Linked DNA regions of Homo sapiens. The protein of the gene in region 2 purifies or fractionates together with the protein of the main gene of each other region. This does not show direct contact. Each region holds a gene or a part of one and is shown on either strand. Other genes may lie near its edges.

Region 1 (4,588 bases), on a different chromosome or scaffold from region 2:
GGATTGCTTGAGCCCAGGAATTCAAGGTTGCAGTGAGCTAGGATTGTGTTACTGCACTCCAGCCTGGGTGACAGAGTGACACTTTGTCTCCAAATAAATAAATAAATAAAGATTGATATAATATTTTTTGAGATAGGATCTCACTCTGTTGTCCAGACTAGAGTGCAGTGGTACAATCATGGCCCCTGCAGTCTTAACCTCCCAGGCTCAAGTGATCATCCCACCTTGTTCCCTACTACAGGTGGGCACCACCACACCCAGCTAATTTTTGTATTTTTTGTAGAGATAGGCTCTCCCTGTGTTGCCCAGGCTCCTCTCAAACTCCTGGGCTAAAGCGATCTGCCCACCTTCGCCTCTGAAAGTGCTGGGACTACACGCATAAGCCACTGTGCCCGGCCTATTATCTTTAAATGAGGCTAAGTCATAGGTCAATAGAATGATTCCCCTCACCTCACCCCTTACACTCACAGCAACAGCAGCAGAATACATACATACAGCAGAGGACAAAAAACTGTACAACTCAGGCTTAATTTCAGAAGTCCTTTAGAATACTTCAGTAAATTATATAACTGATTACGTGGACAAATGTCTACACATACACAATATACCAAGACTGAGTCATGAAAAAACAAAAAATCTGAACAGAGCTGTAGTAGCAGGAGATTGGCATAGTAATAAAAAAAAAATAGCCAGGCACGGTGGCTCATGCCTGTAATCCCAGCACTTTGGGAGGCCAAGGTGGGTGGATCCCCTTAAGTCAGGAGTTCGAGACAGGCTAGCCAACATGGTGAAACTCCGTCTCTACTAAAAATACAAAAAATTACCTGGGCATGGTGGTGGACGCCGGTAATCCCAGCTACTTGGGAGGCAGAGGCAGGAGAATCCCATGAACCCGGGAGGCGGAGGTTGCAGTGAGCCGAGATCATGCCATTACACTCCAGCCTGGGCAACAAGAGTGAAACTCCATCTCAAAAAAATAAAATAAATTAAGAAAAATAATAAATTGGCTGGGCGCGGTGGCTCATGCCTGTAACCTCAGCACTTTGGGAGGCAGAGGAGGGTGGATCACAAGGTCAGGAAATTGAGACCATCCTGGCTAACACGGTGAAACCCCGTCTCTACTAAAAACGCAAAAAAGTAGGCTGGCATGGAGGCAGGCACCTGTAGTCCCAGCTACTGGGGAGGTTGAGGCAGGACAATGGCATGAACCTGGGAGGCAGAGGTTGCAGTGAGCCGAGATGGCGCCACTGCACTCCATCCTGGGCGACAAAACGAGACTCCATCTCAAAATAATAATAATAATAATTTTAAAAACCTCAACGAATACAAAACCCAGGACACCAAATAGTTTCACTGCTGAAATCCACCAAAAATTTAAAAAAGAATTGCTATCAATCCTCCTCAAACTCTTCCAAAACTGAAGAGGGGACATTTCCAAACTCCCTCTATGAGGTCAAAATTATGCTGACACCAAAGACAGACACTACAAAAAACAAAACTACAAATGCCCTTTATGAATATCAATGCAAAAAATCCTCAAATAAATGCTAGCAAATCATACCTGACAGCATATTTAAAGGATTATATGACATCATCAAGAGAGATTTATCCGCAAAATGCAAGGATGGTTCAAATATGAAAAACAATGGGGCTGGGTGCGGTGGCTCACGCCTGTAATCCCAGCACTTCGGGAGGTCGAGGCGAGTAGATCACTTGAGGTGAGAAGTTCAAGACCAGCCTGACCAGCATGGTGAAACCCCATCTCTACTAAAAATACACAATCAGCCAGGTGTGGTAGCCCACACCTGTAGTCCCAGCTACTCGAGAGGCTAAGGCAGGAGAATCACTTGAACCCAGGAGGCAGAGGTTGCAGTGAGCTGAGATCACACCATTGTACTCCAGTCTGGGCAACAGAGGTAGACTGTCTCAAGACCAAAAAAGTCAGCTACATTTATATGCACCAAAACTGAATAATGTGAAAAAGAAATTAAGAAAACAATACCACAAACAATAGCACCAAAAAGAATTGAATAGGCCAGGCGCGGTGACTCACATCTGTAATCCCAGCACTTTGGGAGGCAAAGGCAGGTGGATCAAAAGGTTAGGAGTTCAAGACCAGCCTGGCCAAGATGGTGAAACCCCGTCTCTACTAAAAATACAAAAATTAGTCGGGCGCGGTGGCAGGCACCTGTAATCCCAACTACTTGGGAGGCTGAGGCAGGAGAATCGCTTGAACTCAGGAGACAGAGGTTGCAGTGAGCTGAGATCGCACCACTGCACTCCATCCTGGGCAACAAAGCAAGACTCCATCTCAAAATAATAATAATAATAATAATAATTTAAAAAGCCTCAACAAATATAAAACCCAGGACACCAAATAGCCCAGACTGGGCGACAGAGTGAGACTCTGTCTCAAAAAAAAAAAAAAAAAAAAAAAGAATTGAACGCTTAGAAATTACAAAACCAAGAAGTCGAAAGACTACTTGTACACTAAAAACAACAAAATGTTGCTGAATGAAATTAAAGACAAATTGAAAAATATCTTGTGTTCATGTGTTCGAAGACTTTACATTATTTGGCCAGGTGCGGTGGCTCATGCCTGCAACCCTAGCACTTTGGGAGGCCGAGGTGGGTGGATTACAAGGTCAGGAGTTCAAGACCAGCCTGGCTAACATGATGAAACCCTGTCTCTACTGAAAATACAAAAATTAGCCAGGTGTGGTGGCACGTGCCTGTAATCCCAGCTACTCCGGAGACTGAGACAGAAGAACTGCTTGAACCCAGAAGGTGGAGGTTGCAGTGAGCCGAGATCATGCCACTGAACCCCAGCCTCGGCGACAGAGCAAGACTCCAATTCAAAAAAAAAAAAAAAAAAAGCCAGCACATTGGCTCATATCTGTAATCCCACCACTTTGGGAGGCCAAGGCAGGCAAATCACCTGAGGTCAGGAGTTTGAGACCAGCCTGGCCAACATGGTAAAATCCCATCTCTACTAAGAATACAAAAAAAAAAATTAGCCAGGCGTGGTGGCATGCGCTTGTAGTCCCAGCTACTCAGAAGGCTGAGGCAGGAGAATGGCTTGAAACCAGGAAGTGGAGGTTGCAGTGAGTCAAGACCGTGCCACTGCATTCCAGTCTGGGTGATAGAGCAAGACTCTGTGTCAAAGAAAAAAAAAAGACTTTACATTATTTGGAAGGTACTACTACCCAAAATGATCTGCAAATTCAATACAATCCCTATCAAAATCCCATGTCTGGTTTTTTTTGTTTTGTTTTCTTTTTTCAGAAATAAAAATACCAGCCAGTCACAGTGGCTCATGCCTATAATCCCAACACTTTGGGAGGTCGAAGTGGGAGGATTGCCTGAGCTCAGGAGTTTCAGACTGGCCTAGCCAACATGTTGAAACCCCGTGTCTACTAAAAATACAAAAAATTGGCTGGGCGTGGTGGCAGGTGCCTGTAATCCCAGGTACTTGGGAGGCTGAGGCAGGAAAATCGTTTGAACCTGGGAGGCAGAGGTTGCAATGAGCTGAGATCGTGCCACCGCACTCCAGCCTGGGCAACAGAGACCCCCCCCGCCAAAAAAAAAGCCCGTTCTAAAATGCATATAGGGCTGAATGTGATGGTTCACGCCTGTAATCCCAACACTATGGGAGGCCGACGCAGGAGGACCATGAGGTCAGGAGTTCGAGACCAGCCTGGCCAACATGGCGAAACCCTGTCTCTACTAAAGCTAAAAAAAATTAGCTAGGTGTGGTGGAGGGCACCTGTAATCCCAGCTACTCAGGATTCAGCTACCGGGTTCAGCTACCGGGCGTGGGGGAGGGCTGAGGCAGGAGAATCACTTTAGCGGAGGTTGTAGTGAGCCAAGATTGTACCATTGCACTCCAGCCTGGGCAACAGGGCAAGACTTTGTCTCGAAAGTAAAAAAATAAAATAAATAAATTTATAAATATATATATAATCATACATAAAATTTATAAATATATATAATCATACAACTTATAAATATATATATAATCATACATATAATTTATATATATATATATATACACACACACATTTTTTAAGATGGGGGTCTCACTATATTGCCCAGGCTGGACTTGAACTCCTGGGCTAAATCGATTCTCCCGCCTCAGCCTCTCAAGTACCTAGAATTACAGGTGTTTGCCAGTGTTCCTGCCCTCAGTTCATCTTGAATTGCTGTTACAAGCCGTTGAAGTCAATTTTTAGAAAAGAACAAAGCCTACTGAAATTTTTCTTGAAGTCTGAAAATGTCTCGTGAATAAAATGATTATGATGTAAAAAGCATACGTTGAAAAATATCTGCCGGGCACGGGGGCTCACGCCTGTAATCCCAGCACTTTGGGAGGCCGAGGCGGGCGGATCACGAGGTCAGGAGATCGAGACCATCCTGGCTAACACGGTGAAACCCCGTCTCTACTAAAAATACAAAAAATTAGCCGGGCGTAATGGCGGGCACCTGTAGTCCCAGCTACTCGGGAGGCAGAGGCAGGAGAATGGCGTGAACCCGGGAGGCGGAGCTTGCAGTGAGCCGAGATCGCGCCACTGCACTCCAGCCTGGGCGA
Region 2 (4,588 bases):
AAGATTTACCAGTCAAATACTGGTCTCTATGTCTTGTACATGTTTAATCTGATTAATAGCATGTATCAATGTGAACGATAAATATTTAAGTATTTTTACTGTGTGGGTATTACTGGATCCAGTGTGTGCTTGGGCCTAGATTGATGAAATAAATTGTGTACCAACTCCTATCACTTAGAAGCAGCAACATAAAAACAAGGCTATCGTGTACGGTTATATAGTTTATGCACTGTACAACTCTAATGGATACTATTTATGGACTACAATAAAGAGAATGACCCCCAGAGTTGTACACATAATTGACATGTGGAGATTTTGAGGCCACACTTAGGCTCCATGGGAAGGACTGTCACGATTAAATAGAGATGAGATTTGGGACTCACAGCACACATCTGCTATCCCTTACCTGGGAAAAGCGCATGGTTTTAGGATTTGCAAGCATGGAACCAATTTCCTATTTGTGTCACTTACTATTTGCCTATCTTTAAGCAAGTTACTTTACCCCTCTGTGCAGGTTTATGCATAATAAAACAGAAATAAAAAATGACCCTGCATCAAGACTAGCAAGGCTACTATTAGATGGAATCATATATTTCAAGTATCTGGTTTCCTGGTAACAGGCAATGCTTAAATAAGTTCCCAAAACACCTTTATAGAATTATAAACTTTGCTTAGAAAACAATTAAATTCACTGGTATGTGATCTACCTTGAAATCTATGAGTTGAACTATCACTTATCATTGTTTGATTTGGTAATCATTCATCGAGCCACTTCCATGTTGTAGGGACTGTCATAGCCACTGGGGGAAAATGATTGCACTATGGGCTTGTAGTCAAGCAATTCTCTGGACTTTATTTCTTCATCTTTAAAATATGGAAAGTTAAATGACATGTCCCTTAGAGCCTCTCCAATGAAGAAATTCTATGAAGTGTTGTCTCCAAGTACATATTAAAGGAAAAGATATAAATTATAACTGCTTTCTCTTTTGACAGATTTGTGCACATATGTGTATTCCTTTCTCACTTTCTGCAGTACAAGGAGACCATGAATAATATATACTAAAAAGCTTTCAATCCGCTATTAACATCTTTGTAAAAGTATCATCAAAGGTTATATTTCAGTGGTGGAGAGTTTATTTGTATGTTAACATTTTAGATTTTTATTGCTTTGAAAGGTTAATTCAAAGAATGACCTGTTAACTGCCCTGATTGCAGCCTTGTGATCATTTCTGTAATATCTAACAATTAAACTCATTGAAAAAAGAAGAGAAAATAATGTTTGCTGGCTAAAATATTACTGTTTAAAAAAATGAAACAGACACAAATTTTCTAATTTACAAATCAAATTATTTTGTTTCACACCATAAAAAGTAAAATCTACTTTTTGAAACTCATTAGAAAGCATTTACATTTCATTCTCAGACTTTTGCCAAAAGATACCTTAAAATATCCATGCGCATTATTTCTCTGTCCTAGCCAAAATGTTGTGCCTAGAGGCAAGTCTGTGGAGGGCTTTTCTACTACCCTTTCATAAATTCTGCAAAAAAGAAACATCAAAGAAGGAACGTGAGTAGACAGTCATTTCTTAGAATCTTCCATTTCCTAAAATGAGGACACTACACTTACTTATTGCAGTCAATGTGTAAAATCAAATGGGAAGCACTGATGGCTAAGGAGAGCTTGTGCCACTTGTCATCAGCCAAAATGTAAGGAAACACTTCTGTGTGAGGGCGGTGACTGCCTGAGCGGTAATGCAGTCTGACTTCATTCCGATGGCCACTACTTTCCAGTTCCAGGTACCTGCAGAGAGAAGAGCCACATGGGACACATTAAAAATAAAGTTCAAAAACGATTGAAGTGATCTCTGTCTACGGGATGGAATAGATGTACTTTTCCTAGTTCTCCCACTAAGTACAACTAGACATCATATACAAAACAAACACAGAAGAATCTAGAAGATAGAGAAAAAAAGATATTCAGGATCCAAGGAACAATATGGTAGTGAGTTCAATGGGTTTCCATTTTGTGTCATATATCCTGGACTTGGAGCTAAAGAAGGCTTCAATCTGGAAATATCAATGAATGTAGACCTAAAAAATCCTCAAGATGAGCCTGCTTTCTCTAGCTGAAGAACAAAGAAAGGATCAGTCTAGCAAGACAGAAACTGCTAGATAATAATCTCTCTGTTCCAGTCAAACATCACAGAAAAAACTGGCCCCATCCCAAACCATGCCAAACAAAAGCTAAGTAAGAAGCTTATATTTCTACCCTGTTCAAGCAGAAATGAGGCATGTAACACCAGAATAGTGTCAGAGAAGGCCAAGTTTAGAGCCAAGAATTTTAACCCTCCCAGGCAGTAATGAGGCCCCCCACAGCACTAGTGAAGACCATACAATGAGGAGCCTGGACTTCCATCTCATCTTGGAAGTAATGAAGCACACTTCCCTTTCCCCGCTGGGATAGTATCAAAGGAAGCCTACTAAGGAGTCAGGAGTTTTATAGTCATCCAGCAGTAATGAAACCACCCCGCCACAGTGCCAGCAGAAACCATATAGGAAGCTGAAACTTCCCCCAACTCAGAAATAAAAGAAGCTTCCCCCTCAACTGTCAACAAAGGCAAGTGGGGAATCTAGACTTCTACCTCCACCTGGCAGTAACAAGATGGCACCCTCCCTTCCCCTGACAAAGCAGTGTCAGAGAAAGCTGGCTAAAACAGGCGGGTTAAATAAGATTCAAGTCTCAGAACATGATACAAACATGTCCAGGTTTCAGTAAAAAATCATTCATTATACCAAGAAGCAAAGAAATCTCCAACAGATTGTAAAAAGAAAAAGAACAGATATCAAGACTAAAATGATAAGGATGTTAGAATTACCCAACAAATATTTTACAGCAGCACTGACAAAAACAATTATGAAAAGACTTAAATGAAAAAAATAGAAAGTTTCAATAAAGAAAAAGAAAAATGGGAAAAAAAATTTAAAACCAAATAGAAACTTCAGAACCAAAAAAATACAATAATGGAAATGAAAGCTCAGTGGATAAAGCTAAACAGCAGAATGGAAGTGACTGTGAAAAGAATCAGTTATCTGGAAGACAGAAAAAAAAGCATCCAATGTGACAAATAGAAGATAGACTGAAAAAAAAGTTGAACAGTCTTAAAGAGCTGTGAGATTATAACAAAAGATCTAACATTTGTATCACTAGCATCCGAGAAAGAGAGGAGAAAGGAGGCGAGCTTAAAAAACAATATTGAAGAAATAATGGCTGAACACCTCCCAAATTTGGCAAGAGATATAAACTCACAGATTCAAGAATCTAAGGAAACCCTAAACAAGATAAACTCAAAACAATTTTCAACTTCATATCAAGCCATATCATAATTAATCTTCTGAAAACTAAAAACAAAGAAAAAATTTGAAAGTAGACAGAGAAAATCTTGCACATTAAGTACAAGGAAAAATTAGAGTGACAGTGTGTTTCTCAGTAGAAACCATGGGAGCCATAAAGAAGTGGTAAAATATTTTTCATGTGACAAAAGCAAAAAGAGCTGTACACGTAGAATTGTATACCCAGCAAAAACATCCTTCAGGAATGAAGAGAAATCAAGACATTCTCAGATAAAGGAAAACTAAGAGAATTTATCATGAGAAGACCTATTTTAAAAGAACAGCAAAATAATGACCTCTAAACAGAAAGAAAAATATAAAATAAAAAGCTTTGGAACATCAGGAAGGTAGAAAGAACATAGTATGTAAAAAAGAAAAATGGGTAAATACAATAAGCTTTCCTTCTCCTCTTTTCTAAAGTATGTTTGACAACTGAAGCAACAGCTCAAAATTGAAGCAAAAGAGTCTGTGTCCTAAATGTATGTTAAACAATATTTAAAGAATTTATGTTATAAATGAGTGAGGGTAAAGAAACATAAAGACAGCTAAAATTTCTATACATCACTCAAACTGGTAAAATGACTATACGAACAATCAGTTATAAGTTATGTATATATAATGGAATACCTACAGCAACCACTTACAAAGCTATACAAAGAGACACACTCATAAACATACAGATAAAATGAAATTGTAAAACAAGTAACCCATGGTAAGAAAAAAAACAGAAAAATAAAACAGAGAGAACAAACATAAAATAAAAAATAAAGTGGCAGACTTAAACTCAAGCATATAATTTTATTAAAAGTAAATAGTTTACATGCATCAATTAAAAGAAAGAGATTAGCAGAAGGGATTAAAAACCATGACCATATTCTGTTGGTAAGAAACTCACTTCAAATATAACAGTCTAGGCAGTTTGAAAGTAAACAAATAGAAAATAATATATATTGAAACTATTAATCAAAGGAAAGCAGAAATGGCTATATTAATTTCAGAAAAATATATTTCAGAGCCAAAAAATACCAAAGACAAACAGAAATGCTATAAAAATGATGAAAAAAATCAATCCATTAAGAAGACATAGCAATTCTCAATGTGTATTACCGAAAACACAGAGCTGCAAAATATGTGAAGCAAAAACTGATAGAATTGAAAGAATACATGGTAAAATCCACAATTACAGTTGCAGACGTCAA
Region 3 (4,586 bases), on a different chromosome or scaffold from region 2:
TTTTTGTTGCTTATTCTTAAAACCTGGCTTCAGAAGTGCAGCTACACCCCCAGGAACTAACCTCTTGCTTTGTACCTTCTGCCAGGAAATGACCCATCCATATGTGACTTCTGCTGTGGTCTCACGGCTGTCCAGGAGGCTGTGTTTACCTCCTCTCCCTAAGCACTTGAATTCCCTGGGAGTCCTGTCCAGAGCCCCTGGACACCCCACCTTTCCTTAAACCCTTCCTTAGGGTGGGTATGATTTAGCAGTCAATCCTGATGTTTTCATCACAGAGTCAGAGTGACCTTTGATCAAAACCACATCGCATATATTACTTACATGGTGATGTTTTGTCCTCTCAGATTGCTGGGCCCTTACCAGATGCAGCATATGCTGAACCCTGCATCCCAAAGGCCCTCCACAGGAGCGTGTGTTCAGGATGGAAATGTTTGTTTGCATGACGTGATGGCAACCATGGGTCTTTGGGAATGCAAAAGAAGAGCTCAGGGAAATTGGTTACAAAGGAAATGGTCTTTACCCAGAGCAGCTTTGAGGGCTTCAGGGGAGCAGTGAACTTTGCATACCTGAGCTCTGAGGACGTGCCTGCGTGTGGCTTCTCTCTGTTTTGCCCCGCACCCATTGGAGTTGGCATGTGTCCTTCCATTTTCTTTCCCGTTTATAGGATGGCATAAGGAAAATACACATTTATCTTTAGAAAGGGGCTGTGGTGTGGATTGGATATGTGCAAAGCTGGGTTTCCAAGCTTACAGGCATGAACGAAGTGACTCCAATCACAAATACTCCCTGTCAAGCTGCAAATACATAAACTGTGAGAAAATTAGTCACCTGGGAAAGCTAGATTAACATGCCAACCAGGAAGTAATTTCAAATGCAGTTTAAGGTTTGCATTTATTGACGATACCATTTTGTTTTTAATCGTGTAAATGAGGCCATTTGTTAGTGTTACATGGAGGTTTGGAGGGGATGTCACAGTCCTTCTCTACTTAAGAAGTGTCCTGACCTTTTCTCAGCAACAACTTGATATCAGAAGTTGTGAACTTGGCTGGGCGTGGTGGCTCATACCTGTAATCCCAGCACTTTGGGAGGCCGAGGTGGGCGGATTGGCTGAGCTCAGGAGTTCGCGACCAGCCTGGGCAACACGGTGAAACCCCATCTCTACTAAAATACAAAAAATTAACCGGGCGTGGCGGCATGCACCTGTAGTCCCCGCTACTCGGGAGGCTGAGGTAGGAGAATTGCTTGAACCCGGGAGGCGGAGGTTGCAGTGAGCTGAGATCGCGCTACTGCACTCCAGCCTGGGCGACAGAGTAGGACTGTCTCCCCCCAAAAAAAAAAAAAAGTTGTGAACTTGTGCCTGATTCTGTCTCAGGGTTTGGTATGCCTCTGACTGACTCGCAGGCACTACTTCAGGGGTGATGACTTCTTGAAGGGCTGCTTCGAACCCCACAGCCTTAAGCTCAGCTGACCTTGTTGTTCTACTACCTGTACAAAAAGACAGCCTTTCCCTTTCTAAAGATGTCTCCTAAGTGGGCCAGGATCCACCTGTCATCCAGCTTTATCTCAAAGTAGAGGCACGCTCCAGCCATAATGAGGCATATTCTGTTTTGCCTGTCTTGAATACACAGAGCTGAGATTCACCATTGTTGGTGAGTAGAGATGCACTGAGAGGAGGACTGGGTTTTACCCGATGTTCCAGACCCATCTACGGAGTAGGGAAAGCAGCAGGTAGTCATCACCCACCTTTTGCCTGGGCCCTGCCCCTGCAGCTCTTGAGCACGTCCCCTTGGGCGCCGAGTGCGGTCTTTTCAAAAGGAGCGTGAGAGGAGAGGAGAGGGCGATGGCGCGTGCCCACTGGGTTTTCCTGAAAACACTGCTGCACTGGGGCGCTTTCCATGAGTCATTCCTAGGACAGCCAAGGATACTCTCTGACAGCTCTCTTTAGCCAGTTCCCCAGCTGTTGTAATGGGGTGAGATGCCATTCTCCCTCCCGCTCCTGGACAAAGAGGTCCACATTTTAAATAGTAAAACGGCAAACCTTTAGTTCTTGCTGGTCTTCCTAGCTGTGGCGGGGGGAGTAAATAAGGAACTCTGAAGTGTCCAGTGGCCACCCTGTAAATTCATTTGCAAACAATTCTTAAAGCATTTTTTTTACAGCATAAGAGCATCTTGTGGGCCAAGGAAACTGCAGCTCTTGATTCTACCGTCCAAACCTTTCCCCAGTGGGACTTGATTAACCAGTAGGTGTTACCAACCTGATCCACAGAGACTACCTTGAACTAAGGGTGCTGAGAGGTCTCCGTGGCCACTGGTGACAGATTGATACTCCCGGGCCTCCCCTCAGTGGAGGCGTCTCGCTGTGTGAAGATGCCGTGTTCTCAGATGGGCTCAGCTGTCAGCGTGTGGCCAGCGTTAGGTTGAGCTTCCTGCTGCTTAGAAACCCAAGAGCTCGGCGAGCTGTGTCTGCTGGAGATTGGTGCAGTGAAGCAGCAGGGATCAAGTTAGCCTGGGCAGCTGCTGTGGGATCTGAGTGCAGCATCCCCAGAGGAGCCGCTCCAGCTGCAGATGACATGGGGCCTTGACCTCCGTGCACATCTGGTCCGTCTTCACAAGCCAGAAACAAAACCCAAGTGTATAGCTTGGATGCGGAGGGGTAACAGTTTTGTAGCTGAGATTAATTTTACTCAAGGTTACTTTCTGTAGCCCTTTTTGAAACAAAACATTTCTTCAGTTTGCTTTTTAGCAACAACTCCCGATCTGTAAGGGACCACACTTAAATTAACAAAAGTTAACTGGAAATGGCTTTCCATCTTTATTGACACTCCCTGTCTTTGCACTTAAATTGTACATGCCATTTAAGGAGCCCAACAAGCTTTGGGAACAGTCTCTAACGCATCCCTATTTGCAGCTGGGCGAAGGCCCGCCTGAGCAGGTTAAGTCCCAGGCGGCAATGGTGAGCCAAGCGTGGAACAGCCCAAACTAAAGTCGGGGTCTCTGTGCGGCGGCACGGGCCACTTCGGCACTTCAGTGTTTAAACTTCTGCATGCAGTGTAAAGACAGACAGCTGGCCACAGTGCTGCCCTGCAGTAAAGACCAGCCACCGTGACCGGCTCTCCCCTGCCTCCCTCCTCCCAGCCCACAGTCAGACGGAGCCTCTGTGGCAAGCTCAGGCCCAGTCCAGGGCCCTCAGAGTGTAGATACAGGTGGAGGCCTTTCCAAGTCTTCCAGTTGTCCAGTTAGAGTGGCAGAAAAGTCAGTGGCCATGTTCACCGTGTGCCTCACTCCCTGCAGCCTGGCTGGATGCAGTAAGGCATGGTGGCCTCAACAGCGAGGGAAGGCCTTTATGTTGGGGCCTATGTGGAAACTCTAGCCCCGTGCTTCCATTACATACAAACCGAATATATTAAAGCTTTAGAGTTTTTACAACTATCTATCTTTCCCCTGACATCTCCCCAGCCACCTTAGAGGTGGGAAAGGAAAGGATATAAGAAAACCCCACTAAATGTGGAGTACATTTCATCAAAGTCTGTGTGAGCCAGCTTGCCCCCAGTCACCACGACGTTGACTGCATCTCCCGCCTTCAGGTGCACGATGAGGTGGAATGCCCCCGGGCCCCCGCAGGTATGCAAAGCTCCTGGAGGGCGGTGGTATTCCAGGAACTCTCTCCTGTACCCAGCGGTATGCAGCTGGGCCACGCTGGCGTTGGAGACCGACAGCACTGCTTCCACGTAGGCGTCTCTCTCGGGGGTGAGGGTGGCCGTGATCAGGTAGCGCCCATCATAAGGAGCCGTGAAGACCCCTGCGGGGAGAAAGGCAAACCCTGTGCTCACCTGCTGTCGTCACAGCCCTTGCCATGGTAGTAAGTGGCCCCCCAGTGATTAACCTGGGCCTGGGAGACCAGCCATCTCTGTCTTCCCATGGTAGCTGGCTGCCTGCCTCAGCTGCTTTTTATGCTCATCCCCTACAGCCTACCCGTGATGCAGAGGCCACCTTAGCCCATACCACTTTTTGCCATGGGCCTAAGAATGCCTCTTGGAGGCATTCCTTATTGGAAGCACCTAAAGGCTAAAGTCAGCCTCAAAGCTTGGCTGCTGGGCAGAATACCCGGGAGGCAGGGCCAATAAAAACGAAGCTTGCCACCAACCCAGGGAGAGGCAGACATGGCACCTTGTAACCCCAGGGGCCATGCCAGGCTCCTCGTGGAAGAGGCCCATTCTCCCCATGCTGGGCAATGGCCAGAAGTGAGCACTGATACTCAGCCCATGACCCACACGTTCTGGGCCCAGGGTGGGAAAGGAAGTGGTGGCCAAAGGTGAGGAAGGTGGAAAGATCTGTACATGTCACAATTCGCTAAGCAGAAGCAGCTGTAGGTGGCCCCACAGCTAGGAGAGTCAGTGCCAACACCAAATGCCGGCAGGAATGGCCATCACTCACGGGCTCCGCAGCAGACATCGGACCTTGCCGCTGACAACAAGCCAAGAGTGGACATAAAGCGGAGGGCCCAGGAGCTAAAAAGGGTGGTCCTGGCCATGCGTGGTGGCTCACGCCTGTAATCCCAGCACTTTGGGAGGCCAAGGTGGGCAGAT
Region 4 (3,678 bases), on a different chromosome or scaffold from region 2:
TATGTAAGTCTAATACCTATTAATAAATATAAAATCATTTATAAACAAAACATTAATAATGTACTTCTCATTTTTCTGACAAGTCATATTCCAGAGAGACTCTGTGAAAGTAAAGAAGGTGGTCAAGGTGAAGAAACCTTCAGCCAGATTCCAGATGGTATTCTGAACAAGAAAACTCCTGGAGTAAAACCGTGTGAAAGCAGTGTGTGTGGAGAAGTTGGCATGGGTCCTTCATCACTTAATAGGCACATCAGAGATCACACTGGACGTGAACCAAATGAATATCAGGAATATGGAAAGAAGTCATATACACGTAACCAGTGTGGACGAGCCTTGAGTTATCATCGCTCTTTTCCAGTACGTGAAAGGACTCATCCTGGAGGAAAGCCCTATGATTGTAAGGAATGTGGAGAAACCTTTATTTCTCTTGTAAGCATTCGAAGACACATGTTAACGCATAGGGGAGGTGTACCTTACAAATGTAAGGTGTGTGGGAAAGCCTTTGATTATCCCAGTTTATTTCGTATACATGAAAGAAGTCACACTGGAGAGAAACCTTATGAATGCAAGCAATGTGGGAAAGCCTTCAGTTGTTCCAGTTACATTAGAATACATGAAAGGACTCACACTGGAGATAAACCCTATGAATGCAAGCAGTGTGGGAAAGCTTTCAGTTGTTCCAAGTACATTCGAATCCATGAACGAACTCACACAGGAGAGAAACCCTACGAATGTAAACAGTGCGGTAAAGCCTTTAGGTGCGCCAGTTCTGTTCGAAGTCACGAGAGGACTCACACCGGAGAGAAACTTTTTGAATGTAAGGAATGCGGGAAGGCTTTGACTTGTCTTGCAAGTGTTAGAAGACACATGATAAAGCACACTGGCAATGGACCTTATAAATGTAAGGTGTGTGGGAAAGCCTTTGATTTCCCCAGTTCATTTCGAATCCATGAAAGGACCCACACTGGAGAGAAACCCTATGATTGTAAGCAATGTGGGAAAGCCTTCAGTTGTTCCAGTTCGTTTCGAAAACATGAAAGAATTCACACTGGAGAGAAACCCTATAAATGTACAAAATGTGGGAAAGCCTTCAGTCGTTCCAGTTACTTCCGAATCCATGAAAGAACTCACACTGGAGAGAAACCCTATGAATGTAAGCAATGTGGGAAAGCCTTCAGTCGATCCACTTACTTTCGAGTACATGAAAAAATTCATACTGGAGAGAAACCCTATGAGAACCCTAACCCTAACGCTTCAGTTGTCCCAGTTCTTTCATGAGCATGAAAGGAGTCACATAGAGAAACCCCATGAAAGTAAGAAATTTGGGAAAGCCTTCAGTCCTTTCTGTTTCTTTCAACTACGTGAAAGGATTCACAGTGGAGAAAGACCCTGTAAGATAATTGGCTTTAAATTACGAGAGACTTGTGATAGGACAGTAAAACCTAGAGTTGGAGTTGGATCTCTGGATTGTGTTATGTCAGTGTTGGTAGGTTAGGAACTAGATTTCCCAGAATCCATTCCATTTGTGATTCCATGATACAATTCACCAGTAACCTATCTTACATGAGATTCGGAAGTAAGTTAAGAAGGCATTAGTCATGGTTTGGAAGCACCATACAGGGAGACAGCTGTGTGAATACAGGCTGTATGGACACTTGCTTCCATCCCATTTTCCTGCTTCTTTGGGTTGCCAATCAAGAGTATCCTCAAAACGACTTGACTTTAATTTTCTCGGAGGTGATAGGCTTCCACACAGGTCTCCAGAAGCCCTGCATTGAATATCCATCCACACTTTGGTTTTCCTTCAGACATTATTATGTCTGTACTAGGCAACTAATTCAGACTGTCCTGGTTGGGAATATTCTGTGATGCTCTGACTCCCCTAGTCTGTAGACGGAATTGGCATACGGTCTAATTTGTGTAGTAAGCACCTTTGTTCATACTAGTAGTGACTGTATTCTTGATTCAGCCTGATAGCTACCATGCTGCTGTCAAAACCAACCAGAGGGGAGCTTGTTCTTCTGCTGTAGTGTGCAGTGACTGGCCTCACCCAGGACTTTGATGTGAGAATGAGCACTTTCCTCTATCAGGAAATTTCAAGTGTTTCCTGTTATTCGTAGCTCAATGTAATGCCTCAGTTCATTTTCAGTTGTTTGATTATATGTGACTAATATGTATTTTTTATTCAAACAAGACTTCTGTACATGTTTCTTCAAAACAGTTTATTAACTGTCTTCAGTCTTGGATTACATCAAGTTTATAATTTTGGCAAATTGTTAAGACACTGTGAAGTCAGCGTTAACCATGTGCATACAACTTAAGGAATTTTTTCCTCCTCATGTAAATTTTACTTTTCATGCTTATATAGTTTCAACTTTTATCTTCATAGTAATTTCTCATCTACTCATAATACCAAAAGTTAAGTCATGCTGTTTTGTGTGCTCTCTTGCTAAAGACCGCAGAGACCATACCTGTTGTCAAAGAGGGTGTAATAAACTGTAATAATAATCATGACCACAAACCATAAAGGACTGTGTGATGTATCAGTAAGAGGGTGCTCAGAAGAATTTCTTACAGGTTTTGTGCTTGTTATAGGTTGGTTGATTTCTATTTTTTTTTTTTTTTTGATATAGAGTGTTGCTCTGTTGCCCAGGCTGGAGTGCAGTGGTGCGATCTCAACTCACTGCAACCTCCACCTCCCAGGTTCAAGCAATTCTCCTGCCTCAGCCTCCAGAGTAGCTGGGATTTCAGGTGCACACCACCACACTCGGCTAATTTTTGTACTTTTAGTAGTGAACGGGGTTTCACCATGTTGGTCGGGCTGGTCTCAAACTCCTGACCTCGTGATCCACCTGCCTCGGCCTCCCAAAGTGCTGGGATTACAGGCATGAGCCACCGCACCTGGCCAGGTTGATTGATTTATGTTCAGGGAAGCAAGATGATTCTCTGTATTTGATGCAGTGATGAGGTAAACTTAATTCTAAACTTGGTAATCATAACTGTTCTTATCCAGAAGGGAAAAGGAATGGAGTGGAGGTAAACGTAATTCATGAGAAATACCACTCAGTCATATTAGTGAGAAGAGGGGAATTTGGGTCATGTTTATGATTTGGAACATGCTGTCTTTCACCAGTTTTAAAGACATGGTTACAGAATGCCCTTTTTTTGTCTTGATTCATCATAGCCACCTAGGAGCATGGTCTCACATTGCTGGTGTCTGACATGTTTCTCTCCAACAGCGTAAGACTTGGCCTTGCAGTGAGCGGAGGCTGGCTCCTGGACTTGTGGACCTGTTTTTGCCTTACTTATTCTCTGAACACTGAAGTATTTCCTGTGATGTACTGGACACTGTTTTCCATTATGTACCTCAGTTAAAATATGTAAATTTACTTCTTAGCAAGCTGTATAATACTTTTAAAAAGCTCCTTTACGAGTCTAATGAGACTAATATATTTATGCACATTTTCTGAATGCAAGCCTAGGAAGGGAACAAAGTCAGCATCAATATTCCAACCAAGCCTTTCTTGCTCCAATAATATGCTTTTGTTTTTGTTTTTGTGTTTTTGTTTTTTTAGACAAGAGTTTCACTCTTATCACCCAGGCTGGAGTGCAGTGGTGCAATCTCAACTCACTGCAACCTCTGCTTCCCGGTTCAAGTGATTGTCCTGCCTCAGCCTC
Region 5 (4,588 bases), on a different chromosome or scaffold from region 2:
TACCAGTTTCACTTATAGAATACAGGTTCTTATTAGTTTTATTGCTATTGAATAAAATAAGGTACTAAGAAATGCCAATGGAATCTGGGATCTCACCTTGCAGAAGCAGCTAGGGCAGGAGTTTACTTTTATTAAAACTTTCAACCAAATCATGTTCATGAAAAGCTTTTCTACAGCCCCCAAAACTACAAATCTTAAAAAATCGCGGAGATAAGTACTTCTGATGTTACTTCTAAGTTGTGGAAGAAGCTCATATGCCATGAATCTGGGTATTTTAAGGATGACTCTATCAATATAAGTCCATGATTTTCATGCAGAAATCACATTCACAAATGCCAGTACTTGGAAATAAAATGTATTAAAGTCCTGTAGGAAGCACTTTCATTGTTTTCATGTTGTTATTTTTCAGCTGAGGTTTAAAGCCACCTCATAATTTTTTTTTTATCCCAGGATGTGCTATAGGAATCTATGAAACTTAATTACATTTACTGTTACAAAAAAGGATTTATGAACTTTTGCCTTTAGGCGGAAATGTTTATTTCATTGCCTTTGCTATCCATTCTTTTCAACTCCTCCGGCTTTGAACTTTTCAGCTGCTCACAGTTATCACTGTCTTGCAGAGCCCAGGAATTCCACTCCCAAGACACACACCACAAGTTGAAGAAAACGAAGAGGCAAAGATATACGAGTCGTTATTTTGGCCACCCTTTGTGCCATTAAAATCTCATTTTCTGCCTATTAGAATGCCCTCTTGGTGCTTAGGCAGCGGTGATAGTCAGTGATTAGTGTGTAATTGAGTATAATTGTCTTTTCACTTTTCATTTGTGTCATTCTGAGCTTCTCTCTGTTTTTCTAACCACCAAGAGGAAAAAGGGGGTTGAGAACAGATAAAGCTGTTCAAACTCTCTGAAGAGATTCTCGATTGCAATTATAGATTGCAACCCCTTGTGACATTTCTCCAAATTTAGTGGGCAGCTATCCTTGCCACCTGGGCCAAGCACTCTCTAATAAAATCAAGGGATCTGTATTTAAACAACTGCTAATAATGTCAACCTCAGACAGATGCCACATGTAGGAAATTTAACCAACCCTCTCACATGCAATTATCAAGGCAATTTATTAATGTGATCTCCTAAGAAAAGCTCATAGTCCAATGCAAATTAGAAAAACAATTACAACATTCAAATATTTATATAGTCCCAAAGAGCAGTAATTCCCCTAATTTGTGCATTTATAACTCGTTTATTCCAGAGTTCGTAGTCATCAGCTGGGTCTCTCTCCACAGGACTTGTTTGCTTCCTCTCTGATTGTTTTGTCAAAGCTTTAGTGTTTTCTTATGAGGTGCTTTTGATTGAAACCTCATCAATTTAAAACCTTATCAATTGATTGAAACCTTATCAATTTTAAATACAATTTAAAACAAAAAAACAAAACAAAAAACCTGCCACTGTTTGCAAGCTTCTTAACCAAAGCCCAGAACTAGGATGGAGAAGACAAAACATGGCAAACACCTTCACAGCTAAATATGAACACAAAGTCTCCAAGATTATATCAAAAATCACTTGAATTTTAAGTCTAAGCTACAACTTTTGATGAAGCCAGTAGGAAGGGTGGAGAGAAAGGAAACCAGAAAACTGAAATCATGTGGCTTCTATAAAGAATACATTATGGTTTAAATTTGGCAATTCATTACACTACTGCCTCAGGGAATTGAATATTTGGTTCTGGTATACAGCAAATCGTCTGTCTAGAAACACGGGACTGACCTGAGGTGAGAGGCCATTGCCAATGGTGGGGTTCATGGGGTTGGAGGGCCCCGACGGAGGCACAAAGCTGTCTGTATAGCTGGAAAATCCATGCCTGGTGCTGGGGAGGCAGTAGGCAGAGCTGCTGTCTGGGTTGGAAGGAATCGTGCTTTGGTGTACAGTGCTTGGAGGAAGCGGTTGAGGTCTGTGAACGGTGCTGCTGGGATCTGACACAGCTGAAATGAAAAAGATTGTCAACCATCATGTTTTCTTTTAGGCCAGCAGAGAAAGTTCAGTGCAAAAGTTCATCAGCCACCAGGCCATCAGGAGCATCTATTGATCAAATCAAATGTTCACTTCAAACTGCGTTTCTTAACCTGCAGGTGTAGAATCACCCATAACAGATACAGTCACACCTATCTCTGCACATACTTGTAAGTAACATATATACTCTCACGGCAGGCTCACCCAGAATACTAATGCAGAAATCATATTAGCAATGCTAACAAGCATATTTTGGTAGTGAATGTTATTCATCAATATGAGAATTAACCAATATAAGGACTGCAAGTCTCAAATTTCTTATCAAATATACTTTTAAAGCACCTAAATATTTGTGTAATAATATAGTTTCAAATGCCTGGAATGTTCTTTCATAATCCAAAATAATCGGATCTTACAATTTAACATTATCCCATTCACCTCTGTGTGCTAACAAATAATGACTTTGTCAAAGCTTACCTTCCCTCTATTATTCCTACAGTTAGTAAGCATCATTGAATTCCAGTTAGTTGCAAACTGGAGTAAAACGTAGAGGTAAAATTTTAACAAAAGAAAAGCAAATCCCATGGTTATTTGGGAAGGTTAATTTGTTTTAAAATACTGCAATTGAATTATATTACAGCACAGTTTATCTAGAGATATTCTGATACATCATAGAACAAACTATGTTTCTGAAATGTGATAGGTACGTTCAGGACAACCTGATGTATTACAATTAACAACATGGTGTCAGTACTGCAGAAGGATTCACTTGTATAAAATATCCACCAGAGAAATCGCCTGGAAGTTACTTTCTAATCTCCTTGACTCTTCCTCGGTACCTTGTGGAATAGATGTGGGCTGGTAAGAGGTCTCCGACAGCTGGTACGTTGGCAAGGTCGGCATGGCAGTGGGAGGGAACCCCCCGGGAATGAGATGGTTGAAAGCCATCAGTTGATTGGCCCCAGCTTGCTTCCTCCATCTTGCACGGCGGTTGCTAAACCAGACCTATGGATTTAATTTAAAATTTAAGGATTTCACTGATGAAATAATAGTACATTCTTAATGAATTTTTTATGCTAAAACAGATTAGAGGCTTCTTACTGAAAGGGCAAATAGATGCAAGAGTTCTCTGCCTTCTGTGTTGTTTGGGCGAATTGTCAGGAGTAAAAGAAGAGTTTAGTGTCAAAGGTCAGTAGAGGGGCTTCAGGGACCCACCATGATCTTGCAACAACAGCCCCCATGAACCTTATGAGGACCATGGGCAGGAATCACTGAGCAGGAGTAGGAACAACAGGAACTCCCCTCCCTACCCTCAACATCCACCCACCTACGTGTAGACAGCCTTCTGGGGAGGATACATGAGCCTCTGTGACCCCTGCATGACGCATGTCCTAAATGTGGCCTTGCCTTTTACTCCAAGCCTTGTATTTTATATTCTTATTAGTCTGTCTCTGTATTTCTGTGGTCACTAGGGGTATAGCTTCTGGATGGTCATATAAATTGAACAGAGGATAAGTGGAGCCCTTTTTTCATCTCTTCCAAAATATGAAACATTGCACTGATCTCGGTGGAAATAAATGCCAAAGAGGTAAGTGTTTCAAGAAATGAAAGCCTTTTTTTATCTAAAATAATTCATTTGTGTCTTATTTATTTCAACAACAGCTTTAAGCTCCTAGAACACGCTGTGTCAAGCACTATGCTAACCAGGTACATTCAGAAAAGCCTGATACAATATAATAAAATGCCCTCAAATAATTCAAAGCCCAAGTATTTTGTATGAGTCAATGGAGAGAAAGGGCAGTCATGGCAGCAAGAAATGTAACTGAATATCTAAACTATTGAGAAATTGTGATATAAGGCCTTTCATGGGTCCTGTGCTCCTGCCCAACTCTTACATCTGCAAAGTTTAAATGTAGAACTTGGGGTGATTTTTCCACGGAGCACACATGATGTTTCCCCTAAAATGAGAGAGGATTTCTACCAACTAAAGATATTCTAATTCCTACATCAAAAGTTCATTGAAACTTTTTTTTTTTTTTTTGAGACAGTCTTGCTCTGTCGCCCAGTCTGGAGTGCAATGGCGGGATCTCAGTTCAACCCAACCTCCGCCTCCCAGGTTCAAGGGATTCTCTTGCCTCAGCCTCCCCAGTAGCTATGATTACAGGCACCCGCCACCATGCCCAGCTAATTTTTGTATTCTTAGTAGAGACGGGGTTTCACCATGTGGGTCTTGAACTCCTAAGCTCAGGTGATCCACCCGCCTCGACCTCCCAAAGTGCTGGGATTACAGGCGTGAGCCACCCATTGAAACTTAATATGGAGGAAAGCACTGTGTTTGGGGTTGGAAGGATATAAAGGGAATCAAGTAGGATCTCTGCACTCTGGTAGTTTGATGCCTTGTCCTCATGGGATTCACAGAGCAGTCAAGGAGACCAAAATAATTGCTCGCTAGAGGTAGAAACTTCACATTTGGAAGCACAGAGAATCAGGAAAACTCTAAAGTGGAAGCAAAAAGTTTCAGCTCATTTTAAAATTTGATTCTAATTTCGACGAGCGATCGCTTGAGATGGAAGTGACAT
Region 6 (4,588 bases), on a different chromosome or scaffold from region 2:
CTGGTCCCACGGCTCCAGCCACTGAAGGCCACTGGGCCTCCTCATGCCCAGGTCTGTGCTCTGTGCTTGAGCGCCTACAGGTGGAGGACAGCATCTGGGGACTCACCCGCCATGCTCACAATACGAGTGGACACATTCCCGGCTGCTCTTGTCCCACAGCTTAACAGTCTTGTCATCACTGGCAGACACGATGAGCCGCCCGTCGGGGGAGAACCTGAACCGGGTGGGGCACAAGTCACATCACAGACTAACAGACGACATGGGCACCACACACCTTCTTCCACAGCCACTCTTCCCCGAGTGCCTACTATCTGCCTGCAGGAACCACCCGGGGTCACATGCCCTGCTGTGATTTTTTTTTTTTTAATTTGAATACCCTAATTTGTCTTTTCAGGAACAAATGCATTGCATCCTAGGAGGCAATGTTACTTCTGTTTATTTGGTCATATCTTAAATTATACTTTGTTTCTGAAAATAGTTAACTTTTAGCACATCATTTTTCTTTTTTCCTTCTGAAGAGTTTTTCAGGAAACTGTGACTAAATTTTGTTTTTGTTTTTGTTTTGTTTTTTAGACAGGGTATTGCTCTGTCACCCAGGCTGGAGTGCAGTGGTGTGATCTCAGCTCACTGCAGCCTCTACCTCCTGGGCTCAAGAGATCCTCCCACCTAAGCCTCCTGAGCAGCTGGGACTACAGGCGTGCACCACCACACCCAGCTAATTTTATTTTATTTTATTTTATTGTAGAGATGGGAGTCTCACTATGTTGCCCAGGCTGGTCCTCTAACTCCTGGAGTCAAAGGATCCTCCCACCTCATCCACCCAAAGTGCTAGGATTACAGACATGCACCTTCAAGCTCGGCCTATGACTTAATTTTAAATGTTATAAAAATGTTTCCTTTATTTTTTTCTTCCTGAATCTGTGAAACTTATTGATCTTTCCTGTTGCTCTTGTTTTCGTTTTCTTACGTAGCTTCATGAGCAAATAGCCCCTCTCCCATCCCAACAGCAAACTCTGACCAAAAGGGAAAAAGAGAAATTCTTCCTGACTTAGAGGAAAACCAAACATAAATAAACAAAAAGAAAAGAAAAAAAAAAAGGTGCCTGCCTCACGAGTGAGCACAGAGCAGCCTCATGCACATAAAGCCCCAGCACTGCCCCTGACGCACAGCACATGGCAACATGCAGCCGACTGCCTGCCGGCAACATTTGCATAAAGGTGGCCAAAAGCTCACCATCAGTGTCATTACTCTGGGACCAGGTCCTCCGAGTCTACATTTGACTCAAGTGCGGGTCAGCAAGACACAATCTGCCAACAAAAGGCATGAGGTCCTGGGGACTGCCACCAAAGGCCCAGTATGGACTTGACACCCCAGTTTGCTGGCCTGGCCCCTCCTGATCTCAGGACCCTAGTCATAAAGCCTCTAAGAGCCATCAGGGGTCTCCCAGGACAAAGGAATGGGGGTGCCCTGGAGAACAGTAACTTGTATGGGGTCCCCAGAAGAACACAGCTCAATAGTCCCCAACTTCTGACTCATGTGGTTTCCTAATGTCACCTGGCACCCCAACCCCTTCCTCTGAAGCAAAGATATTTGACCCATGGGGAAGCTCTGTTGAAAGGAATGAAATAAGCTAGAAGTAGGACTATCTGTCTGCAATTCTTGGACCTTGAAAGGTCCTTTGGGTTACCTGGCCCGCTGTCTGCACAGCACTGGCTCCCTGGCCAGCAGGAAGGCTAGCCTCCAGGCTAAGCCCCCCATCTCCGAAGCCTGCGCCCCCATCTGGGAGCTCTGGAGCAAAATCATCCCCTGAGAACATCCCAGAGGAAAGTAGGCAAGCCTTACTGTCAGAGAGAGTTGGGTTCAAACTCCAGCTCTGCCACAGACCCACCGTGTGCTCTGGGACAAGATACTACTGTTCTGAGCCCCCATTTCCTCATCTGCAAAATGGAAATGCACCTAGCTTGCAGAACTGTCTTAAGGAACAAAAAGAAAATGTGTAATGGTAGTACTGAAAGTACCTAATTGTTTTTGATAATAAATGGCCCCTGTTGACCCAGTTTGTGCTTTGCCAACACAGATGTCAGAGGGTCATCATGGCTGACTATGGACTAACTTACATGTCATGCATCAGCTCCATGAAGCTTCTCGACAACTTACAATGCAGGAGCTATTATTGTTCCATTTTACAGATAAGGAAACCGAGGCTGAGGAAGCTTAAACAATGCCTAAGTAACTTGCCCGAGGTCATAAGTTGGTACCTAGCAGCCCCTGGGCCAGCCCCCAACCCCCAGGGTTCCTCCAAGGGTCTCCAGACAGAACAATGCTCACTTGGCACAGCGGACCCAGTTGATATGCTGGCTCAGGGAGAACAGGAATTTCTGGCGATGAGTTGCCCACACTTTGACTGTCTTGTCGTCAGAGGCTGTCACGAAGGACTGGCCATCACTGCAGAAGTGGACACTCCTCACTGTGGCTGTGTGTGCACGAAACACAGTGGACTCACCTTTGCTACAAGGACAGGCATCCAAGAGTAAGGAAACCCATAACAGTGACATGAGAGCCCACAAGCACATCAAAGCTCTCCTACTCCTCAAGCACCCCTCCCAAAGTCAGTCAAGCCCGAGTACCCCAGTCTCCACAAGGGAAAGCCAGAGCCTCTCCTATATGAACAGAGCACCATCTCTAGGCCCCACCCACATGAACACAGCATCAGGTGGCATTTCTTTAGGGATAGATTGGGTAAGCCCAGAACTCCTCTTCCAACCCTGAGGGGAGGGCTCCAACTGCAGCCCCAGCCTCTGATGGCACCTCTTCCAAAGCAGAGTAGAAGTCCCACTGTGACCAGTCCAGAGCCAAGCTAGGGGACCTGGGTGGGGATGGCTCTGGCACCAGGGCCCCAGACTCCAACAAGCCTCCTCAAAGTGTACGACTCACACATTGGGTACCCAGATGCGGACAGTCTTGTCTCGGGAGCCGGAAGCAAGCAGGTGTCCCGAAGGAGAGAAGTTCACACAGGTGACGGCATCCTTGTGGCCAGTGAAGCGGTAGGCGCGTGACTGCGGCTTCATGTGCCAGACCATGAGGCATGAGTCCATGGAGCCACTGGCTGAGGACAGTGGGTGATGCTATGACCTACAGCTCTAACAGGCTTCAAGCCTCCACCAAGACATTGGAGAGGCAGGGGGAGCAACTGGCCCAGCTCCATCTTCCCTGGCATCCACAAACAGACCGTGAGAAGTCTCCCATGGAGCAGAGCACATCTCGAGGTATGGTCTGGAGGTGGAGAGCCTGTGGCCCAGAGTTCTCCAAGGAGCACACCCACATGGGAATAAGACCGAGGCCCTTCCCATGCTAGCCTTGGACTGCAATCCAGAGCTCTGGGAAAACTCATTCCCATGGGGCCCAGGGTCTCCCCCCAGACACATCCTGAGGGCACCAGAGAGCAAGTCCTCCCCAGCTGGGAAGCCAGCCCCTCCCATTGAGAGGGCCCAACTCAGTATGAAGCCTAAAGGAGGTCCCCAAAACTGATCAAAAATCACTTCAGTTCCCTCTTAACCTTTACACATCAGAGGGTCTTGATGACAGGATGAAGGGGCAAGCCTCCTCTGCAGGAACCAGAAAGCGCAGTCATAAAAGCTGTGTACGAAACCTCATGCAACCAAGGAAGGGGGACAGTCAGCTGCAGCATAAGAGCAGTGGGGTCGAGGGGGGTGCCCATCTCTGCTCAACAGCCTTCTCACTGACAAGGCTCTTCAACAAGGTGTGCCTTATTACTGTGGGCAACAGAATCAGTAAAGCTTCAAGGAAAAGGAGTCACTGTTTAGGGCCCACACCAAAAGACAGACCCAAAAGGTGGCTAGGGTGTGCAGAAAAGACCCAGATCCCAGTCCCACCCTCAAAAGCTCTGTGGCCTTAGCAAGGCCCCTAACCTCTCTGACCCTCAGGCTCTGCATGTAAAATGAAGCTCATGAAGCCCAGTGCCCAAAGAGCTGGCAAGCAGAAGCAAGACTAGAAGCAGGTCTAGACAAAGCTGTGCAGTCCTTGTGCTCTGCTTCCCACCCACCACCCCTCCGAGGTAAAAACTTGGCCTGTTCAGCTCATAACCTAGCACCTAGACAGGGTGCCTCTTCTTACCCAGCTGCTTTGTGTTGATACTGAAGTCCACACAGGTAACTGCATCTCGGTGGCCCTTAAAATGCCTTTCCAGCGAGGGGTCCTCCTGAGAGAGAGCCAGGGTCAAATGTGTGAAGCCTGGGTGAGGAAGGGGCTTCCCCAGGGCCAGCACTCTTCCTACAACAGCCGGGGGAGTAGGGTTAAAAATGCTCAAGGCATGATCTTATATAAAGAAAATCCTAAGGAATCCACTTAGGATTAGTTTTTACTAGGAATAGTTTTTACTATTTGAATTAATACATCAACTGTGGAAATGCTTCAACAAAAACAAAAAACAAATGAGTTCAGCAAAGTTGCAAGATACAAAATCAAGACACAAAAATCAATTGTCTTTCTGTACACTAGCAATGAATAATCCAAAAAATAAAACTATTTATGATACATAAAAAAAATAGCAATATTTTAAATTAGCCGG
Region 7 (4,588 bases), on a different chromosome or scaffold from region 2:
CATGCTGTCTGACTCTAGAGCCGAAACTTTGACCACTGAGTGATACTGCCCAAACTTTAAAATTTAAAAAGTGGTGAAGTTCTTAACCTTAGATTCTTTCTCCTACTTTTTTGATAACTTCCCTGTTCAGAGGCATTACAAGGATACCCTATTAATGAAGTGGTTTTTAAATAAGAACAGATAATGGAGATGTAGAGCCTACTTATTCTGTGCAGGTGAGACACCGCACACACATTCCTCAACCCTCCCTGCCACTTCCTACTTGTTCAAGGCTGTGCACCTTGGTAACAGGGCAGCTGAAGGATGTGGGAGCCCATGTGGCCCCAGTGTGACCCCAAGGCTGTGTCCCAGCCCTATCAGCGAAAAAGATGTGCTTGTCAATCCAGCAGATTGTCACTGAGCTCAGCCGAATGACCTTAACTGAGGCTTGGCACTACACAGAGAAGAAATTCAGCATAATCCCTGCTCTCAAGGAGCTTATGGCACAGCTGGGAAGAAGAGACCACTTTCAGCTTAAATCCTTCTTTCCTCACACTTTTGTAGTTAAGTACCAGAGCACTGAAGAGACTACAGACCCCCAACTTCCAGCAACACTGTCCTATCACACTACTCAGATCACTCAGCCTTCAGTACCCCTCTGTGTACATTTCACAGATCAACTCCTTTCTCGTCTCCTCCTAGTGTTATAAGCTTTTTCTTTTGTCTTTGAAGAAGTGGGAATTATTTTCATCTCTCTATTTCCCTCCATCACCAGGGAGTATGTCAAGAGGGTTAACTTAAGGAGCTAACAAAAAAACGTAAAAGAGGATAACTTCTCTATTGCTGTTAATGTTGGGAAAGAGCCTATGGGATTCTATAGTATTTGCTCAAAAATGTTCAAAGGAATATACGGAAATTTCATCCTCAACATTTTACTGTCCAGAAAAAAAAAAAAAAAAACAACGGAACTCTAGGGGCCAATTATTCTGCTGTCTTGGACTCTGACCTTAGCCAGTCTCCCTCTGGTTTTAACCTGACTACAACTGAGGAGAACTGACAGCAGAGTACCAACTGAATGAGCAGCTTGTGTCTAGAGTGGTCAAACTGAATGACTTCAGGCCTTCAGAGCAACATTCAAAAGTAACAAGTACCATGCCAAACTTATATGCTAAATGATTAAGAGCAAGTTTCATTGTTATTTAATTTAAATATATTGGTTCCCACTATGTTCACGACATCATACTAGGAGGTAAGTATTCAAAACAGTGGCAAGCCTTTGAAAACCAACCAATATCAGATTGTAGTAATACAACTAGAGAAATAGAAGACAGAGTGAGAAGAGCACATGAGAAGCAGTAAAGGGGGAAAGATGGGAGGGTTTACTGTCTGCAGTGAGTAGAGAAGGAAGTATCTGGGTGTGAATTCGTAGATGGGAAGACTACTATTAGAGTCTTCTATAATACTATACTAGTTTGAAGAGTGGGTCTTGACTCTCTCCTTTCCTTCTGCTCTTCCCTGGCCAGCTAGAGCCTAAAGTTTGAAAAACAATTTTTAATAAGGAGCTATAAAGAGTTGGGTTCTAAATCTGACGTTAGCTTTGTAACCTTGAGTTACTTAACCTTTCAAAACCTGTTTTCTCAAGGGTAAAATGAAGTTAACAAGTATATGGGAGCTCATAATGCTACTCTCACTTTTATATTTGCAAATTTTCTTAATTTTTAGAAACGGCAGTAATAATACCTATTGCTTAGTTGTTGTGAGGGTTACATGAAACAATACTGTAGAATACCTAGTACACTGCCTGGTATTTTGTATGTGTTCAATAAATGGTAACTATTATTATCAACATGATGTGAAATGTCATATAATGTTAAGACATGAATTATTATATTTTAATATTATGAAAATTTTAAAGTTCACCAGAACTTTTAAAAAAGTTTTGGAATGGAGGAAAGAGGAGAACCAAGTACTATGACCCAGTGAATCAATGGCTGCAGACTTAGAAATACAACAAGGATGACCTTTCCAAATAGAGTCTAACGGGCTCTCACTCTTTCACCCACCTTCATTCTCCCCTCACTACTTTATTCATCCATTCAGCAAATATGTTCTGACTGAACTGTACGCAGGACACAGTGCTAAGAGGTGAGAGTGAGAAAGAGATGAAGGTGGACAAAAGAAGGAGATTTAGGGAACAATATAATAGGATGAGCTTTAAGGGGGGAGGTATCAAGGAATAATTTGAAGTCGCATGCAAAATGTTTGGAATATGTGGGTGTGTAGAACTTCTCTAGGATCTTCTGGAGGGATTCTAAACAGAATTATTATTTTTTAAATGTTAAGAATAAAGGTCTAATAAACTGAAAAAGAAGCATACAGATTTTATATAAGGAAAAACATGTAACACTCCTGAAAAATCACCAAAGTAGCTTTGAGCAAATGAAAAGACAGACCATAATCTTGGATAGAAGAGTCAATATGGTAAAGATGCTAGTTCTCCCTAAGCTAATTTATAAAATGTAACACAATCCTAATAAAAATACCATCAAGTCATCTCCTCTTGAAACCAGACAAATTGATTATTAAGTTCATATGCCAGAATAAACAAGCAAAAACAGCCAGGAAAACCCTGAAAAAGAGCAATATTTTAAAAATTGGCCCTTCCAGATGTTAAATGATAAAGCCTCTAAAATTAAGATGATTTTGTAACAGCATATGAATTGGCAATCAAACCAATGGAACAAAACAGAAAATCCAGTAAGAAATCTAAATGCATACAAAGGCTTAGTATTCAATAAAGACAGCATCTCAAATCAGTGAAGAAAAAAGTTTTTAATAAGTACTGTTGAGACAACTGACTGGCCATTGGGATAAAGATAAAATCAGATCCTTCCTCAAACCAAATACTAAGATAAATTTCAAATGGATCAGAGTCTTAAATGTTTTTTAAAAAGTGAAATCATAAGCCTTACATGTACTAGAAGAAAATATAAATGGATGCTCCATAAATTGAGAGTGGGGCAAATATCCTAACTATGACTGCAAATCCAAAGCAATACACGGTAAGACTGAGAAACACAACTATATAAAGATATAAAACTTGGATAGAAATAAAACAATATATACAAAGTCAAGCATATGACAACTGGAAAAATATATTTGCAATCTGTATCACAGACATGATATATCCTTTATCTCATAAAAAGAAACAACAAATTTAAGCTATACTGAAATATTATTTCTTACCTGACAGATTGGCAAAACCCCAAAACTTTAACAGCATACTTTGTTAGCAAGACAGGAGAAACAGAGAAGAAGGGTTTAGGTATGAAATAAAAACTTCTTGGTAAAAAGGAATTTAATTTTTAATAGCAATCCTTAAAGTTTAAAACCAATGACAGCCTGGCACAGTGGCTCACACTTGTAATCCCAGCACTTTGGGAGGCCGAGGCAGGTGGATTGCTTGAGGCCAGGAGTTCAAGACCAGCCTGGGCAACATGGTGAAACCCCATCTCTACCAAAAATCATAAAAATTGGCCAGTTTCCTAATCCATTCTCAAAATTAATTAATTTTTTAAAAAAGTATTCAAGAAAAAGAGCCTGTTTATGAAGTTGGTGATACAACTACACAGAAGATAATTACATCAAGTGACTTTAAGACAATATCTGACTACACATCTCAAGTAGCATATATTCTAAGGAAAAAAGGAATAACAGAAAACCCAAACAGCATTCAGTAATATAAAGGTCAGTGTAGATAATGGCATTGCTACTGGCCTGGTTGATACCAGCAGCAGGGAAGTCCAGGGAGAGGGAGCAGCCTTGAAGCCTTGGAATGTGGCCCACTGGCCCCAGAAAGGATGAAGTCCTGTGGCCACTGAGAGATTTCAACTGGTGCTCAATATAAGGTGAATTGTGGGAGGAGGGGCTGCTCAGAGGCTTGAGAGACAGGCACAGCCACAGTTGGAGGGTAGCACTTGCTGGACCATCCTAAGGGCAGGCAAGCCATCCAAGAGTTTTAAAGCAAGGGAATCACATATTCCGATCTGTGCTTTATAAAGACCACTGGTAACAGTGTACCAAATAGATTGGAGAGGAATGAAGCTGAAAGCCACTGACCAACTAGAAGGCTGTTTCATAATCCAGGACAAGAGATTATAGCAACTCTAACCAAAGGAAGAGAAAGGGTAGAAGAAATCAACAGTCCTGTAGCCTAACTAAATATGTGCTGAAAGAGAAGATCATGGCACCATTCCCAGGTTTCTGCCTTTGGCAACTCTGTGGTGCCATCCACTGAGCCTAAGAACCAGGGAGAAGTACCAGGTGGAAGAAAGATGGCAAATTCACTGCTGCCAATGCCCTGGAGACCATCTTCTGGAGCTAATGGGGACAAGGAGCAAAAGGAGTCAAGAAGGAAAACTCAGGAAGACTCAATGGTCAGGCCCCAGTCCTAGAAAGCTGAGAAATAGGACGAAATTAGCAGGTTAGATTACCTCTTACAGTATTTTCTCAAAATAAGAAATAGAATCACCTACCGTTCACCTTTGTTTTTATGCTAAAAATAACCCCACTATAGCTAACACTAGCTAACAAATATTAACCAACAAAT

The links.
Region 1: the proteins of NELL2 (region 2) and ZNF101 purify together in Homo sapiens (affinity purification with mass spectrometry; 2 studies listed by BioGRID and IntAct, with this or other methods). This does not show direct contact.
Region 3: the proteins of NELL2 (region 2) and EMILIN2 purify together in Homo sapiens (affinity purification with mass spectrometry; 2 studies listed by BioGRID and IntAct, with this or other methods). This does not show direct contact.
Region 4: the proteins of NELL2 (region 2) and ZNF627 purify together in Homo sapiens (affinity purification with mass spectrometry; 2 studies listed by BioGRID and IntAct, with this or other methods). This does not show direct contact.
Region 5: the proteins of NELL2 (region 2) and PAX3 purify together in Homo sapiens (affinity purification with mass spectrometry; 2 studies listed by BioGRID and IntAct, with this or other methods). This does not show direct contact.
Region 6: the proteins of NELL2 (region 2) and POC1A purify together in Homo sapiens (affinity purification with mass spectrometry; 2 studies listed by BioGRID and IntAct, with this or other methods). This does not show direct contact.
Region 7: the proteins of NELL2 (region 2) and ZBTB40 purify together in Homo sapiens (affinity purification with mass spectrometry; 2 studies listed by BioGRID and IntAct, with this or other methods). This does not show direct contact.

Annotation. Positions count from the first base shown.
Region 1 is NC_000019.10:19,671,537-19,676,124, reverse strand, and holds part of ZNF101 (zinc finger protein 101), read right to left. Parts: intron 943-4,588; exon of another isoform or gene 927-942; coding exon of another isoform or gene 825-926; intron 722-824; exon of another isoform or gene 1-721. UniProt on the Homo sapiens protein: May be involved in transcriptional regulation.
Region 2 is NC_000012.12:44,778,223-44,782,810, forward strand, and holds part of NELL2 (protein kinase C-binding protein NELL2 isoform b precursor), read right to left. Parts: intron 1,801-4,588; coding exon 1,627-1,800; intron 1,538-1,626; coding exon 1,441-1,537; intron 1-1,440. UniProt on the Homo sapiens protein: Plays multiple roles in neural tissues, regulates neuronal proliferation, survival, differentiation, polarization, as well as axon guidance and synaptic functions.
Region 3 is NC_000018.10:2,912,280-2,916,865, reverse strand, and holds the end of EMILIN2 (EMILIN-2 precursor), read right to left. Parts: intron 3,800-4,586; coding exon 3,462-3,799; 3' UTR 863-3,461; downstream 1-862. UniProt on the Homo sapiens protein: May be responsible for anchoring smooth muscle cells to elastic fibers, and may be involved not only in the formation of the elastic fiber, but also in the processes that regulate vessel assembly. Has cell adhesive capacity.
Region 4 is NC_000019.10:11,616,612-11,620,289, forward strand, and holds the end of ZNF627 (zinc finger protein 627), read left to right. Parts: intron 1-83; coding exon 84-1,278; 3' UTR 1,279-2,550; downstream 2,551-3,678. UniProt on the Homo sapiens protein: May be involved in transcriptional regulation.
Region 5 is NC_000002.12:222,218,374-222,222,961, forward strand, and holds part of PAX3 (paired box protein Pax-3), read right to left. Parts: exon of another isoform or gene 3,015-4,588; coding exon 2,849-3,014; exon of another isoform or gene 2,713-2,848; intron 2,180-2,712; exon of another isoform or gene 2,023-2,179; intron 1,982-2,022; coding exon 1,767-1,981; intron 1-1,766. UniProt on the Homo sapiens protein: Transcription factor that may regulate cell proliferation, migration and apoptosis. Involved in neural development and myogenesis. Transcriptional activator of MITF, acting synergistically with SOX10.
Region 6 is NC_000003.12:52,146,882-52,151,469, forward strand, and holds part of POC1A (POC1 centriolar protein homolog A), read right to left. Parts: intron 4,291-4,588; exon of another isoform or gene 4,220-4,290; coding exon 4,135-4,219; intron 3,107-4,134; coding exon 2,935-3,106; intron 2,509-2,934; coding exon 2,329-2,508; intron 215-2,328; coding exon 107-214; intron 1-106.
Region 7 is NC_000001.11:22,457,681-22,462,268, reverse strand, and holds part of ZBTB40 (zinc finger and BTB domain-containing protein 40), read right to left. Parts: intron 1-4,588. UniProt on the Homo sapiens protein: May be involved in transcriptional regulation.